2 linked regions of the Homo sapiens genome follow. The protein of the gene in region 2 interacts with the protein of the main gene of each other region in a biochemical or structural test. Each region holds a gene or a part of one and is shown on either strand. Other genes may lie near its edges.

Region 1 (7,378 bases), on a different chromosome or scaffold from region 2:
CCTTCAGGATCCCATCGTTGTGGTATAAATTCACACGATTATCTTTCAAAAATTTCAAGACCTGTCACAGAAGTTCTAATACTCAAAAATCACAAAATTATATATCCATATGTTAAATTACGTATACACACACAGGATAGATACATGAGCTAATATGTATCATTTTTATATTCCATTCTAAGTTCCAAAAGAATCTTTCAAAGCACAGATTGCTTTTTTGGAAGCAGCAAGGAGAATTTTTACTTCCTGCTGACCAGCACTATTTTATTTAAAGGCAACTGTTTGTGGACCTTAGGAATCAGTCTTCTCTTGACCACCTAGTATAATAATTGCTGAAAATGGGCTGAAACAATCATATTACACTGTTTACATCTGTTTGGATGCTCCTCTTACCTTTCATCTACAGAAATGTTGTACTCTTCGCTATTGCTGTGTGGAGGAGGATGTGCTGGGGGAGGAGGAAGCAGGTCTGCCCAGTTCATGCCACCCTGTTTTGGTACCTTGGGTGTTCTTGCCCCTTTCTTGTGCCCCTGACTCCCTAGAAAGGAAATAAAATAGAAGCCATTGATCTCTGGCCTTTAAACTTTTTCCATTAGTCACAAGTTAATTATTTTTTGTAAATATGATTTTATAATTCATTTATATATACAGAGATAAACATGCTTTTTCATTAATTTTAAACAGAACTTTGTACAAGAGAACATGCAAGGTACTGCCATGAATAACTGCAAAATAAATAGCAAAAAAGCAATAAAACCATGAATGAATGTTTCAAGTCATATCATTAATAGTGATCTTCCTGCAGCAATTAATTGCATTATGGATTATCATCTCAAACAAATGAGCTGTAGATATATTTTCTCGAGTGCCTTTCTATTATTTAATTGCTGGAACTTAAAATACAATATGATACAGATACGATCTATTAGAGTTCCACTGTTGCATTAAATCACTGAATATATATAATTTGTACTTGTCCATTGAAATGTTTTAGGCACAATGAAATTACTAGTTCCCTTCAGAAAGGCAAGTACAGATGAAATAATAGCTGGAATAACTGATAGAACTAATGACAAAAGAAGCAGAAAAATGATTTTTAAAAGGGACAGAAGTGTTTTCAGCCACTGTTTCTGTACAATGATGGCTTATGGTAAAATGATGTTGCTTGAACATTCTTAGTAGTTTGACATAGCCCAATCATTCAAGTGCTCCAGTGTTCTCATTTTAGATCTGGCATATTTTTTAAACACAAGAGGCTATATATTTGAGAGCATTTATTTTAACAAAAACTTTAGGTCAACAAATATTTTGGGACAAAATATCCCCTTTCCAATATGTTATATTTTTGATTCATATGTGAATTATAGACAATGAGTCTATGATTATTTTTCTCATAAGTTCCCTTTATATCAGTGCATTATGTTGGCCTTAGTTTTTTAACCCTATCCAATCCTTCTCCAAGTCATGTAATATATGAATCAGGTCTGATCATATTCAATGAGCCTTGATTTTTTTGTCACTTGGGAATTTTCAGTCAAATGGCAGTGTTTGTTAAGCCAGATGTTCTTGTACTGGTAGGTTACCACACTAAGCGTGGGCTAGGGACAGGCTGTTATTAATAAACTACGATTATCAGTCCTATGTGTATGTCTCTCACTTCTCTCGTCCACCACTCCGGTGTCCAGCATTGGGATAACTGTGCATGTGTTGTAGACTAGACATTAACCCACATCTTCCTCTGGATTTCCTGATATACATCTACTGTAGCAACTCCATCAGTCCGGAGAGGCCTATCACAGATCTCTCCTATACCTTATTTACTTGCTTTGTTCTCTTCCCTAATTACCATCACGCATCTTTACATCTTTTTACCATATATTCACAGAATATCAAATGATATATAGCAGTAGAACACCCAGATCTAGGTATCTAAGCTGAGGGATGCTGAAGGTCAATTAAAGATTAATAACCTAGAATCATTGTTTATTTTCCCATTAAGATATGGTTTTCTCTATGTGACTAAAAATTCAAAGATCAAATGGCATAAGATAATCAAATATTAAAATATTTCATATGATTTTCTTAAAAGTAGATCCTTGAAATATTTCTCTTAATTCAGGATTGACTTAGCTTCAAAAAAGAAGTCATTTAATAAGATGTTAATTGTTAAAACAAACAAATAACATATAATAGAATCAGAGTAAATCTAAAAGGTAAAGGGCCATTTCTAAGCTCCCTTAATTCCAACAGAAACACAGGCTAGACAATGCCAGACCAGCGTGTTAGTTAAGGGAAAACTGTAAAATGCAAATGCCATATTCATTACAGAAGAAGGGTGGAGACTCTTGGCTAAAAGCCCCTAAGAACAACTTTAATCCAGTTGCTGGGAAGTGGCATTTCTACCCTCTCCTGGAGAAACATTGCTAGAGTCAAGATCAGTCGGTTTTGTTCTCATTGTGGTGTGATGTGCCACATGTTAGTTCTAATAACGAACTGCCTTTAATTAGAAAAACAGGACTTAAGTACCCAGCAAGCTCCCATCTGCAGCCCCTATCAGGAAAACAGCTGGCAAACAGCTGTAACAGCATGAAGACCACAGGGAAGAGGCCTCAATGTGGCTTTGGGAGGCACTTACAGACTGAGGTTGGGAGGTTGCTTTACGAGGCTTCAGAGCAAGAACTGAGGGATCGTAGAGGGATGATAAACTGAGACAGGCTCCTATTGTACCTGAATCTCATGTTATTGTCTCTCCGGCTTTTGATTCTGCTCAAGTGTCCTCAAACATTATGTGCTTTTATAGGCTCGTTTCAAATGGCAACATATTTAGCAGGTTAACTCTGTGCAACATTTTTAGTTATATTTTGGCCAACGGGGAAAAAGTTTCAACTGCCTTTAAAGATTAACCAGACATGTTTCTTCTGGCTTTGCTAAAGCTCATTAACAAGGAAGAAAATAGGACACTTAGTCTTTTTGCCAAATAGAACATAAAATGATTTAGTGAGTGGAAAGTCCCTCAAATTGCAGAGACAAGACACATGCCTGAGACTCAAATTACATACAGTGATTTAGACATGTCACCTACATACGTCAGTCCATTAGCACTCAATTTGTAATCTTGGAAAGTACCAGCTTTTTAAAGGAGAAGTTCTTTGGTTCATCTTACTTACCAGATGTACTACTGCCCCGGTCTGAGCTGTTGTAGGATCCTCCTGTGTTCTGGTCGTATGATTGGTTGTATGGGATAGTTGGAGGAACTGTGTCATTTGCTCGATAATCTAGACATATCAGATGAAAAAACAATAAACATTTATTTTCTCTTCATGAGCGATTTCACATCTCTGCTTTCTCTATATTTCTGAGTAACTAAAGAAACAAATTGGACCATTTATTTGCCTTTTTTCTCTTCTATTGTTGTATTCAGATTGTCAGGATATAAAAAGGCTTATACTCCAAATATATATAAACTATAAATAACTTTAATAATATAATATCAATATGATTTTAATAAGAATCACAAAAATGTCTGCAAATCATAAAAAATAAATCACAATACATAAAAATAAAACTGAAACCTGTCAGCAAGGTTATATCTAATAAAAAATATATCTATGATTAAAAAAAACAAATATCTTAATTTGCCCCAGAAATGCTTCTGCTTACTTAGGCAAAGGTGAAAATCCAAATGATAAGCTTGCCACTGGAATGTAGTCAGTAATAATCTGTCGTCTAGTTGCATTCCAGGTTCTTTATTATGGTCTGACATACCAAATCTGCTTACAAGCAGTATAAACAATAAATCAGAGTTCTGAAATATTTGTGCGGAGGCTCTCAGGGCTTTCCGAAGTCCACAGTAAAACAATATACTATGAAGGAATAATGTGACAATAGTTTGAATCACCACTGCAAACTCCATGATTACAGAAACTGTCCTGTTCATCTTTGTCAGTTTTTGTTATGAACTTATGCAGGAGTCTCGATCCATATTTATTAAATTGGGTTATTATACCAATCAAGTACTTTCTTAAACTTGAGAAAAGCCTAGCTGACTTCATTCTCGAGTTAAAACATAATATTAACTTAAATGAAATTTTTAAGTTATATTTTTGTCATCTTCAACTGTGATAAATCGCATTTTCAAAGAAAATGTTCCCAACCCAAACCTAAAGAAAATGTCTATGTCTCCAATTATCTCCAGTGTATTCTTTACCTGGAATAGGTGGGGATGCATTGCCCCCATCTATTCACATTAGAGCAATCCTGGTTTTCCTAGAGGTATAACTTTGCAAATCATGATATTATAGCAGTAGCCTAAAGGACTACAAAGAAACCAAACACCTATCTTTTCCAACTCATACACATTACAATACAGAAACATTTCCTTCAGGCCACAGAATACTATTCTGCGGCTTCAAGTTAATACTAAACTCAATTTATTTTAGGTTCTATACGGACAGACTTCAATCAGGTCAACCAAGGAAATTTAGGTTCTAAAATTATACACTGTAGCAGTCTTAATAACCACACGAGGTGGGAGACATACAACAAATTGAACCACTTCTCCAGTTCAAGTTTAATTTAATTATTTTATTTCAGGTTGATATAAAAATGCCATTGGTTTATATAACCACATAGAAGCAATTATCTTCCATCCTCTAGTGGAAAGAATGGGATAGTCTATTTATTGAAAATGCGAGGTATTGTGACAGTTGTACATCTGCCTCATGAATAAAAGATTGTCCGTCCCAATCCCTCACCTGCTATTAAATTTAAATTAATCTCAAAACCATTTGAAAATACTTATATATTATTATAAAATAAATTTTCCAAGGTTATTGTTGTGCTAATTAACTCTTTGACACTGGAAATTTTGAAACCAAAGAAATAAGAAAATCTCAGCGACAGAAGAAAAGATTTTACTTGCTAGTCGCAGACAAGTTTCAACATCTAGTCGAGGTGCTGAGAGTATCATACAGAAACAGATGGGAATACATGCAAGCCTCTTCACCTTTGTTCAGCTTGTTTTGCTCCACGATGTTGTACTGAACTGGTGCCACTTCTTGTTTCTGCTGTCCCAGTGGTTTCCAGTGCTTCTCGCCAGAGTCCCCGCTGCCATTGTTCATGTTGTTGCTGAGGTTTGACTGGATGAGCTGAGTGGTGGCGTAAGGAGTAGGCTGCCCTGATGGATTGACAAAACGCCCATCCTTCAGATTTGGGCTATTGAAGGTTTTCATCTCATTGATTTTGTTACTAAGGTCCACATCACCATAAACAGTTGACTCAGGGAGCATCAGATTTGTTTGTTTGTTATCCAGTTGGTTGTTATAATTTGCTATACAATCAGCTATGTGCAATGGAGAGGAAAAGGAAAAAATCATTCTGCGTGGTTATTCCTTTTAAATTTCTTTTTACGTAGCTTTGCGAGTCATCAGAAAATCGTTATGTAAAGTACAAGTGGGCTTAAATAAGATCAATAAAAACGGCCAAATATCCACATGTGCTTTCTAAAGAAAATTAATAATTGAAAAAATAAAAGAGGGTACACAGAATTTGTAGAGACTAAATAAATTTGAATTTCTGATAGTGCTGAAGTAAACAATTCATCCAATTTAAAATAATTTTCATTTAATAACCTCATTAATAGGAATTCCACTAAAATAATATATACATGTATATCTTTATGTGTCAACTTTTTATTTTCTAGTCTTTGGTTACTGAATTATTTGAAGCTACTGGTTAGCTGCTGAAGCAACAGACAAAGCACATAAATGAAAAATCCAAAGGAAAAAACTATTCATAGATCAAAGAACTTGAGATTTTGGTATTTTATAAAATACCTACATTTAAAAGATATGGGAACAGGGGTAAAATGATAGTAAATGGTACTAAGGAGAATTCTATTAGTTCTTGTTGTAGTCCTGTTGGATAATCATTATCCGGAAAACATGCTATATAATTATTTTCTCATGGTTTCATAATGACAACCAAAGAAATATAAAATGACAATAATAATAATAACAAAAGGAATCATAGTAACCTGGGTAATTGAATCAAATAAGCCTGAAATAATACTTAAATATCTAATATCTCATTTCCACTCCAGTTTTCTCTCTATTGAAATATTTGGACATTAAATAACTGAATATACATACATAATATATACATTCATTTTATATATATATATATATATATATATATATATATATATGGCCTGCAGTTGAAAATATTAAAATGGTAGGAAGAACTGAAATCATATTTTTAAATTAAAATAGATTTTAAATAGAAAAATTAGTTAAATTACAATGGTAAAAATGTCATTATTTTATGCATGTTGTCCAAAAGTGGTACCAACATTAACAAGTCACCTGTAGCATTGGTTTTTAACTGGATATGTTTAAAAATTATAAATTAACATGTTTGTTACTAAAGATGTAAATGTGAATATAATCTTAAGAAAAATGTGTAATTTCTCTATCCTACTGAATTCAACTATTCTGCATTTCAACCATGAACCGTCAGGGAACAGAAATATTTGATTCATCTGGACTTTGTGATTCTTATTTCTAATTTCTAGTTTTGTTTAACAGTGGTTAAGAAATACTATAAAGATCATGTGGTTTTTGCATTCTCATTTTGTTTCGCCAATCTGTCTATATTTGTGTTATCCAACAGAACTTTGGAGATATTGGACATGGTCTACTCCACTTTGTCTGATACAGCAGCCACCAGTCACACGTGGCCACTGAGCACTAGAAATGTAGCTAGTGCAAAAGAGGGACTGAGTTTTAAACTATATTTTATTAAATTCAATGTAAATAGCCATCTGTTGCCAATGGCTACCATATTGGACAACACAGCTCTACCTATTAAATGGGTATCGCCATTTTTTCTCTCCTATAGGTCTCAACCCAGTTTTTCTTGTACTTATGATTACATGAGTATCTATCTGTCTAGACATTCAGAATATGGGCCTCTAGAGGACAGAGACTTGGTCACATGGATACGTCACATCCACGTCCAGTGGACACTCAGGATTCGCTTTAAGGGCAGACATGCAGACTGCTCTATGATTTGTTCTTTATAGTGCATAGCATCTTTACTTAAATCCAACTTCTCTCTCGCCTTTCCGTAATTCCACAGGTTATTTTACTTCTATCATCATAGAGATTCCATACAATAATTTTAATATTTCCTATATTGGCAATATTGGGTTTTTTTTTGGGGGGGGGAGGGGTTGTTTGGTAAGAAATCTTTGGTAATTTTTATTCCTTTAAATCTTGCAGACTGTACATCTGATTTTTTACTATTATGTTTTGGCATGAAATTTTAGCAAGATAATTTACTCACACATACATCTGACTCAAAAAACAAACAATAGAAA
Region 2 (7,378 bases):
GTTTATGTTTTCCTGATGGCTATGAGAAAACGATGCTGAAATTATTCCTTGAAAGGTGACTTGTTCTTAAATTGCTTTGTTGCAAATAAATCCATGAAGAAACTTAAAAAGAACAATAAGAAATCCTCAAGTAAACATGTTGGATGTGCTTAGAACTTTCTTTGCTGCAGATTTTCGCTAAACTGCTCCTTTTGCTCCCGTTATAAGCTTTATTTATAGCATCTGTGAAAAATGACTACATTGTCAAAGATGGATTTTTATATCTCATATTTAAAAACAACAAATTCTTCACAGTTATGCCATGTGTAGGGGGAAATCTTTGTTTTTATCCTGCTCTTTGGCCCATTTTGGCTTTTAAAGGATTAATTAGCTAAGTTAAGACTTAAGCCCCAACATCACTGTGTGGTTCTCATAACAATTTGGTGGGGCAAACACTGGAAGGTAGAGAATCATGCCTTCCAGGATTCTCTTCTTCCTGACTTCAAAAGGATCCCCTGTCCCTCACTAGAGTATCAGGGTAAACCAAAAAAGGGGTGGTGTCTACATGAAACTGGCTAAAGTCATTTGAATTAAAAATATATTAAATGATTTTGCTTATCAGATAAAACAAATATGTAGACATAATTTGCCCCATGTACACTATATTTATTATCTTTAATCTAGTGCAGCTTCTTCCATAGGGATCTGAATGACTTGCTTAAAGGTATACAGTGAGTTGGTGGAAAGACTTAAAATTTGAGTTTGTTAATTTCATGTCAATTCTTCAAAGTTCTGGGTGAAGAGTTAAAAGGTGCTGGTTGGCTGAGCGCAGTGGCTCACGCCTGTAATCCCAGCACTTTGGGAGGCCGAAGTGGGTAGATCACATGAGGTTAGGAGTTCGAGACCATCCTGGCCAACATGGTGAAACCCTGTCTCTATCAAAAATACAAAAAAATTAGCCAGACATAGTGGCACATGCTTGTCGTCCCAGCTACTCGGGAGGCTGAGGCAGGAGAATCGCTTGAGCCTGGGAGACAGAGGTTGTAGTGAGCTGAGATCACGCCACTGAACTCCAGCCTGGGCGACAGAGCAAGACTCTGTCTCAAAAAAAAAAAAAAACAACAAAACAAAAAAAAAGGTGCTGGTGGTTGAATCCAGGTGTTCTTTCTCGCCTGCACCCTTCCTAGCTGCAGATTTCCTAAGAAAAGCCTCCCCCATGCAGAGGCTGAACTGCAGAGCCATAAAAGCAAATGAATCAAATGTTTTTGTCTGAGCACAAAACAAAGAGACATATTTTTTTTTTTACTGTCTGCTTATCAAGTAATGAATAAAAATATTTGTTTTTCATTTTGTCTTGAAAATACAAATGTTGAAGAGAAAAATTACTAACGCTGTCCACACAAGGAGCATTTTCTGTTTTTAACTGTCTATTTAAGACATACTATCAATCATTCAGAAGCTACCACAAATGTTTATTCTCTGAAGCTGAATTTTAAGATCCGATCATCTCTCCATAGAGAGAGATCTCTTACCTGAAGTGTTATGTTCGTCTGAGGCCGAACCTTGGCTGAAGGAATCTGAAGATAAGACTCTTTGTTTATAAAATTCACACTAACCAATTTTTCACACTTTTCTCCCTGATAGCCAGGCAAACACTGACATATTGGCTCATTTATTCTGACGATACACTGAGCTCCATTCTGACAATCAAAATTATCACAGGGGCTGGTACGAGGGAGGACCATGGGTGGAGAAAACTCACAGAACAAGCCACTGAAGAATAAGGAGAAAAAAAAATTAGTTAATACGATTTTACTTAATTGCCAATCTGAATTGAGAGCTGTATAACATAACTGTATATTATATATGTGCACTTCCTTGTTTTTCCAGTTTTCAAGTATTCTTAACTATTAAACAAAATCATCACTGTGCTGTACAACAGATATTCCAAACTTACTCATCCTGTCTAAATGACATTTTGTACCCTTTGACCAACATCTCCCCAAACACCATCCCTCTGTCCTCCTCTTTGGTAACCCTCATTCTACTCTTTGCTTCTGTAAGTTCTACGTTTTTTGTCTTAAAATTTTTTTATTTTAATTTTTGTGGGTACCTAGTAAGTGTATATATTTATGGGGTAAATGAGGTATTTTGATACAGGCATGTAATGCATAATAATCACATCATGTTAAATGGGGTATCCATCCCCTCAAGTATTTATCCTTGTGTTACAAACAATCCAGTTATACTCTTTTAGTTATTTTAAAATGTACGATTACACTATTACTGACTATAGTCACCCTGTTGTGCTAGGTCTTATTGAACACTAGGTCTTATTCATTTCTGCTTTTACCTGTAACCTTCGGGGCATATGCACGTATAGCCGTTCACTGCATCTGTGCAGTGGGCTCCGTTTTTACACTTGTTGTCTTGGCAGTCGTCAAAATCGATGTCGCAGTGTTCACCTACGTACCCTGGTGTGCAGTCACATCTGTTGGAACAAGCAGGTAATGGTTTCAAACCCAACTGAGCCAAAATAAGTAAACAATGCATTTTATCTAGACACAATGGCACCATCTTTAAAATACTTATTTAGAATAGGCTCATAGAGCCCCCACATTAATGGATACCTAGAAAATCGAACTGTTCTGCAGTATGTTCCATGTTCTATCACTGTGATCTACCAGAGAAATAGTGATTTTATCTCCTTGATAGTGAACATCCACAGCCCAAATAAGAACAGGGTAATTGTAGCAGGGTCACTCCCTCCCACCCACTCTCCTCCCTCTTCCTTCCTTTCTTTTTCCCCATTTTGTTTGCTTACAGTGCCCTATATTTTCAGTTTGGCCTAATCCATTTGATCATTGAGATTATAAAAGTGCTATGTTGTAAAATTTACTGGAAATATTAAACATATTTAAAAAAAGATTAACATTTTTAATTTTACAATAGAGACTAGATACATCAGAACAAGGTATTATTTTAAGAAAAGCAAATATATTAATATTAAATACCCTAATTCACAATGAATCCAGATACTCATTATAGAAGAACGGGACTGACATAATGGGTTAGGATAGAAGAACTGATAGAAAATTCACGGGGCCAATCCCACGGACAGTTTTCAGCCTGTTCACCATGGTGGTAAAGGGTCTTGGCTGCATTGATGGTGAGGAACCAGGAGTAATAATACAGCTGACATTCACTGAGCACTTCCTCTGGCCCTGCTCTAACCATGTGGCTTCTATGGATTCACTGAATCCTCTCCACAGTCCTGTGATATTCGTGGTATTACTTTGCCCACTCTACAGGTGAGGAGACTAAGGAACAAAGAGGTGAAGTACTTTGCCCCCAAACACTCAACTTCTAAGTGCCACAGCCAGGAATCAAACTCAAGCAATCTAACAAGAAAGCTTGTATTTCTAACCACTGCACTATGCTGTTGAATAATTAATTCCACAGGCTCCCTTTAAACCTGTACTTCTCTAGTGCTGACCACTGGGATCTCTAGTTATGATACCAAGGATGCAGGATTTTATAGCTGCATGAAGAAAGGCAGTGTGGCACGTGCAGCAGTTTTCAAACTGCACTGTGGACCTATAGGGGACCATAGAATCCCTACAGGTATGGCCATCTATGAGGAGGGGTCTTCTGGAAGCCTCCCTCTACCCTCCACCTTTTCCTCAACACTCTCCTGTTGTGATTTATTAGGCTTACACATTGGCTTCCAAGAGTGTTTTTGATTTGAGTTTAAGAGAGGGTTCACTGACTTTATATATATATATACACACACATACACATACATATATACATACATATACACATAACTGCAAAGCCTGAATTCTGCAGAGCTAGGTCATAGTTTTCTCATATATACACACACATATATATATATACACACATATACATACACACATACATATGCGTGTATGTATATGTATATGTATATACACATGTACATACATATACATATATACACACATACATACATATGTATATACACACATGTACATACATATATACACACATACATATGTATGTGTGTATATATGTATATATATGCACATGTGTATATATATGTGTATATATGAGAAAAGTATAACTTAGCTCTGCAGAATTCAGGCTTTGCAGAATATGTACATATGTACATATATACACATATATACACACATACATATGTATGTGTGTGTATATGTATGTACATGTGTATATACATATACATACACACATATGTATTGTGTATGTAGCAGTGTATGTATATATGTGTATATATATGTGTGTATATATGAGAAAACTATAACTTAGCTCTGCAGAATTCAGGCTTTGCAGAATTCAGGTTTTACAGAACTGTGTTTGTACCCCGGCTTCATTCTTAATTGTATGTTATCAACTTTATTTTATTCTAGATTTACTGAGGTATAATTGAAAAATAAAATCTTTATATTTTAAAGATGTACATGGTAATGTTTTATACATACATACATTGTGAAATAATTACCACAGTCAAGCTAATTAACATATCCATCACCTCCCATAGTTACCCTTTTCCTTTTGTGGTGAAAATATTTCAGATCTGCTCTCTGAGCAAATTTCAAGTATATAATACAGTATGAACTATAGTGACCATGCTGTGATATTAGATCTCTAGAACTTATTATTCATCTTGTAACTGAAAATTTGTGCCACTGACCAACATCTTCCCATTTTCCCCACCCCAATTCCTGGTAACCACTCTTGTACTCTCTTTTTCTATAAGTTTGACTTTTTAAAATTCCACATATAGGTGAGATCATCCGGTATTTGTCTTACTATGTCTGGCCTATTTCACTTAGCATAAAGTATATATAATACTGACTAAATTACTTAATCTCTGTAAGTGTTATTTTCCTCATCTTTAACACGTATATAATTCCACCTCACAGGTTTATTTAAAGATTAAACGCATCCATCTGTAAATTAATTAGTATAGTTTTTATATATAATGCACGTTCTATAAATGGCTGGTTTTTAAAATAATTCTCTATATAGTCTTTATAATTCTATAAAAGCTTTTATGGTTTAGTCTGTATTAATTATCCACTTTTCTATTTCAAAGCTATTAGGATTTGAAGTAAGGATAATTAAAAACACCCAAGTGAATGTGGCATTACTGAATGCCTAAGGTTTTGTCTGAAAATGCTAAATCAGGATTTGAGAGTTGCTGGAGAGCGGAAGAATTAAAACAAATGGGAGTATATAGCCTCTAAGAGTAGCAAACAGACTTTCAGCTCTGCATGTATGAATTAAGAAATAAAATGAGCTCACTGCATAAGCATGCTTGCTTTGCAGCCAGTTGGTTTTAATGCTAAATCATAGCAAAGCAAAGTAAACAACAAGTCTGAAGTTAAATAGACTCTAAGTGGCCATATACATTCTCAAAGAGATGGACAAGGCCCGAGAAGAGAACTTCCATCAATGTTAATGTGAGCAGAGCTGTTGAAGTGCCAAGCATTAAAAAAAAGAAGAAATGCTTTGAAACACTCTGAATTATTTATCTGAAAAAAGAAATCAAAGTGAAAGATAAGAGAACAACACATCCACCATAGCGGCTGTCTAAGAGCTATTTTATATTCCCTTCTCTCCAAATACTATTTTTCAAGACCATTAGAGCTTGGAGTTACATTATGTCCAACATTTTTGTCTTTCTTTTGCTCCTCAGACTGAGTTTCAAAACAGAAAGAAAAATTTAAATAAGAATTCCTGAGTTTGTATTATCAATAAAACCTATCACATTCCTTCAACTCTATTATCTGACAAGGAGAGAGGAAGAAGCAAAGAATATAAAATACACTGTTTAGAAGCCCAAAGCTGGCTATGTAAGATGCAGGTTTGAAAATACTGCTTATGGCATATCATAGTCTAAAAATATCTCAAAGCAATTTGGGAGATTTATGAGGTATATAATAAAGCAATAAAAGTAAAACCAGCTCTGTTAGCTTAGTAATAAGAAAATGAAGTTGAAGTAGCATAGCATAACTTGTCTAAACAACATTTGTCAGTAGAGATTTTCTTTAGCAGCTTCACAGAATTTGATTTTTACGTCTATTTTCTTTCCACAGCTACCTTTCCCACAATGTCGGGAGTAACAGCACACACACTGACCTAACCGTTTTCTGCTAAACTACCTACATACAGCTATGAAACGAGCTTACAAACTATAATGGAAAACAGTGGGTTTCCAAATGAGTTAGTCCATAATGCAGCAAAATGCACTTTTAAGAGTGTCTAATTTATTTGATGGCGAGAGGAGATATTTAATTAAGGATTAGTCTTTTTGCAGACAAACTCACTTTCTAATAGTTTCAGTTAAGTCTTACTAATACTTTATCTTATACTTACAATACACAAAGTACTGTGACATCTGTTCAGCAGATGAGCAGTTCTGGAAAACTTTCCTTACTAGCTAATTTCTCTAAGAAATGATATTTATTATGTAAGTGATGTGTTTTCAATTTGCCAAATTAAATTGTGAGCGCATCATTGATATGAAGACTAAAAACAACTTACCTACAGTGTTTGGTTGAATAAAATATAATGTAAAGTTTTGTATAAAGTGAAAATGGAATAACACTGGGTTTTTGCCTAGGGTTGTAAACTAAAATATAATGCAAAATAGAATCAAATTTATTCTTTCCTTTTTCAAAAAGACATTGTAGGGAATTAGCAGGTGCTACAACTGTACCTACATATTCTACATTTTTGGATTTTAAACCAAATTAAAGCAAAAGCACATTGTCAAAAGAAAGCTTGAGAATAAATATTTAATTTAGATTGATATTTGAAAAGCAGTGGGGATCTGGCGATTCTGACCCCACTCTCCCACCCGACTTAAAATATCTGATGATCTGTTCGGTAAGTACAAATATCTTAGCAATCCAGCTCAAATTCCATCTTCTCTTATAAAATTCATCCCGACCTGTGTAATTGTTAATTCCCTGAATTCTATGGCAATTGAGCTTGGGTCATTTCTCTAAGAAGATGAATTAAGTGAAGGTGAATAGCTATAAAGGACTACAAAATCATAAGATGGTATTATTACCATGTGCTGTGGCCATGGCAGGCACTCAATAAATATTGCTTGAAGGAACAGATAATGCTATTTGCTAGCTGTCTGATGAAAGCACAGCTCAACCCCTGTACCCGACTGTGTAATTCCTAAGAATCCAGCCTATTTGCTACACAATACCAACTGTAATGTTAATAAACTATAAAATTTCTTATAGGTAACACATAGTAGAAAAATCACCCAACTGGTAAGTATAAATCCTAGCTCTAGCTCTGCCAATAAATAACCTTAAGATCTCTGGACAGTCAACTAACCTCTCCGGGCCATGGTTTCCTCATGTTTAAATGAAGACTA

What was found.
Region 1: the proteins of SLIT2 (region 2) and ROBO1 are reported together in a solved structure, tested with the Homo sapiens proteins (one study listed by IntAct).

The regions. Positions count from the first base shown.
Region 1 is NC_000003.12:78,630,768-78,638,145, forward strand, and holds part of ROBO1 (roundabout homolog 1 isoform a precursor), read right to left. Parts: intron 5,342-7,378; coding exon 5,006-5,341; intron 3,276-5,005; coding exon 3,168-3,275; intron 539-3,167; coding exon 394-538; intron 1-393. UniProt on the Homo sapiens protein: Receptor for SLIT1 and SLIT2 that mediates cellular responses to molecular guidance cues in cellular migration, including axonal navigation at the ventral midline of the neural tube and projection of axons to different regions during neuronal development.
Region 2 is NC_000004.12:20,590,789-20,598,166, reverse strand, and holds part of SLIT2 (slit homolog 2 protein isoform 1 precursor), read right to left. Parts: intron 2,471-7,378; coding exon 2,333-2,470; intron 1,753-2,332; coding exon 1,512-1,752; intron 1-1,511. UniProt on the Homo sapiens protein: Thought to act as molecular guidance cue in cellular migration, and function appears to be mediated by interaction with roundabout homolog receptors.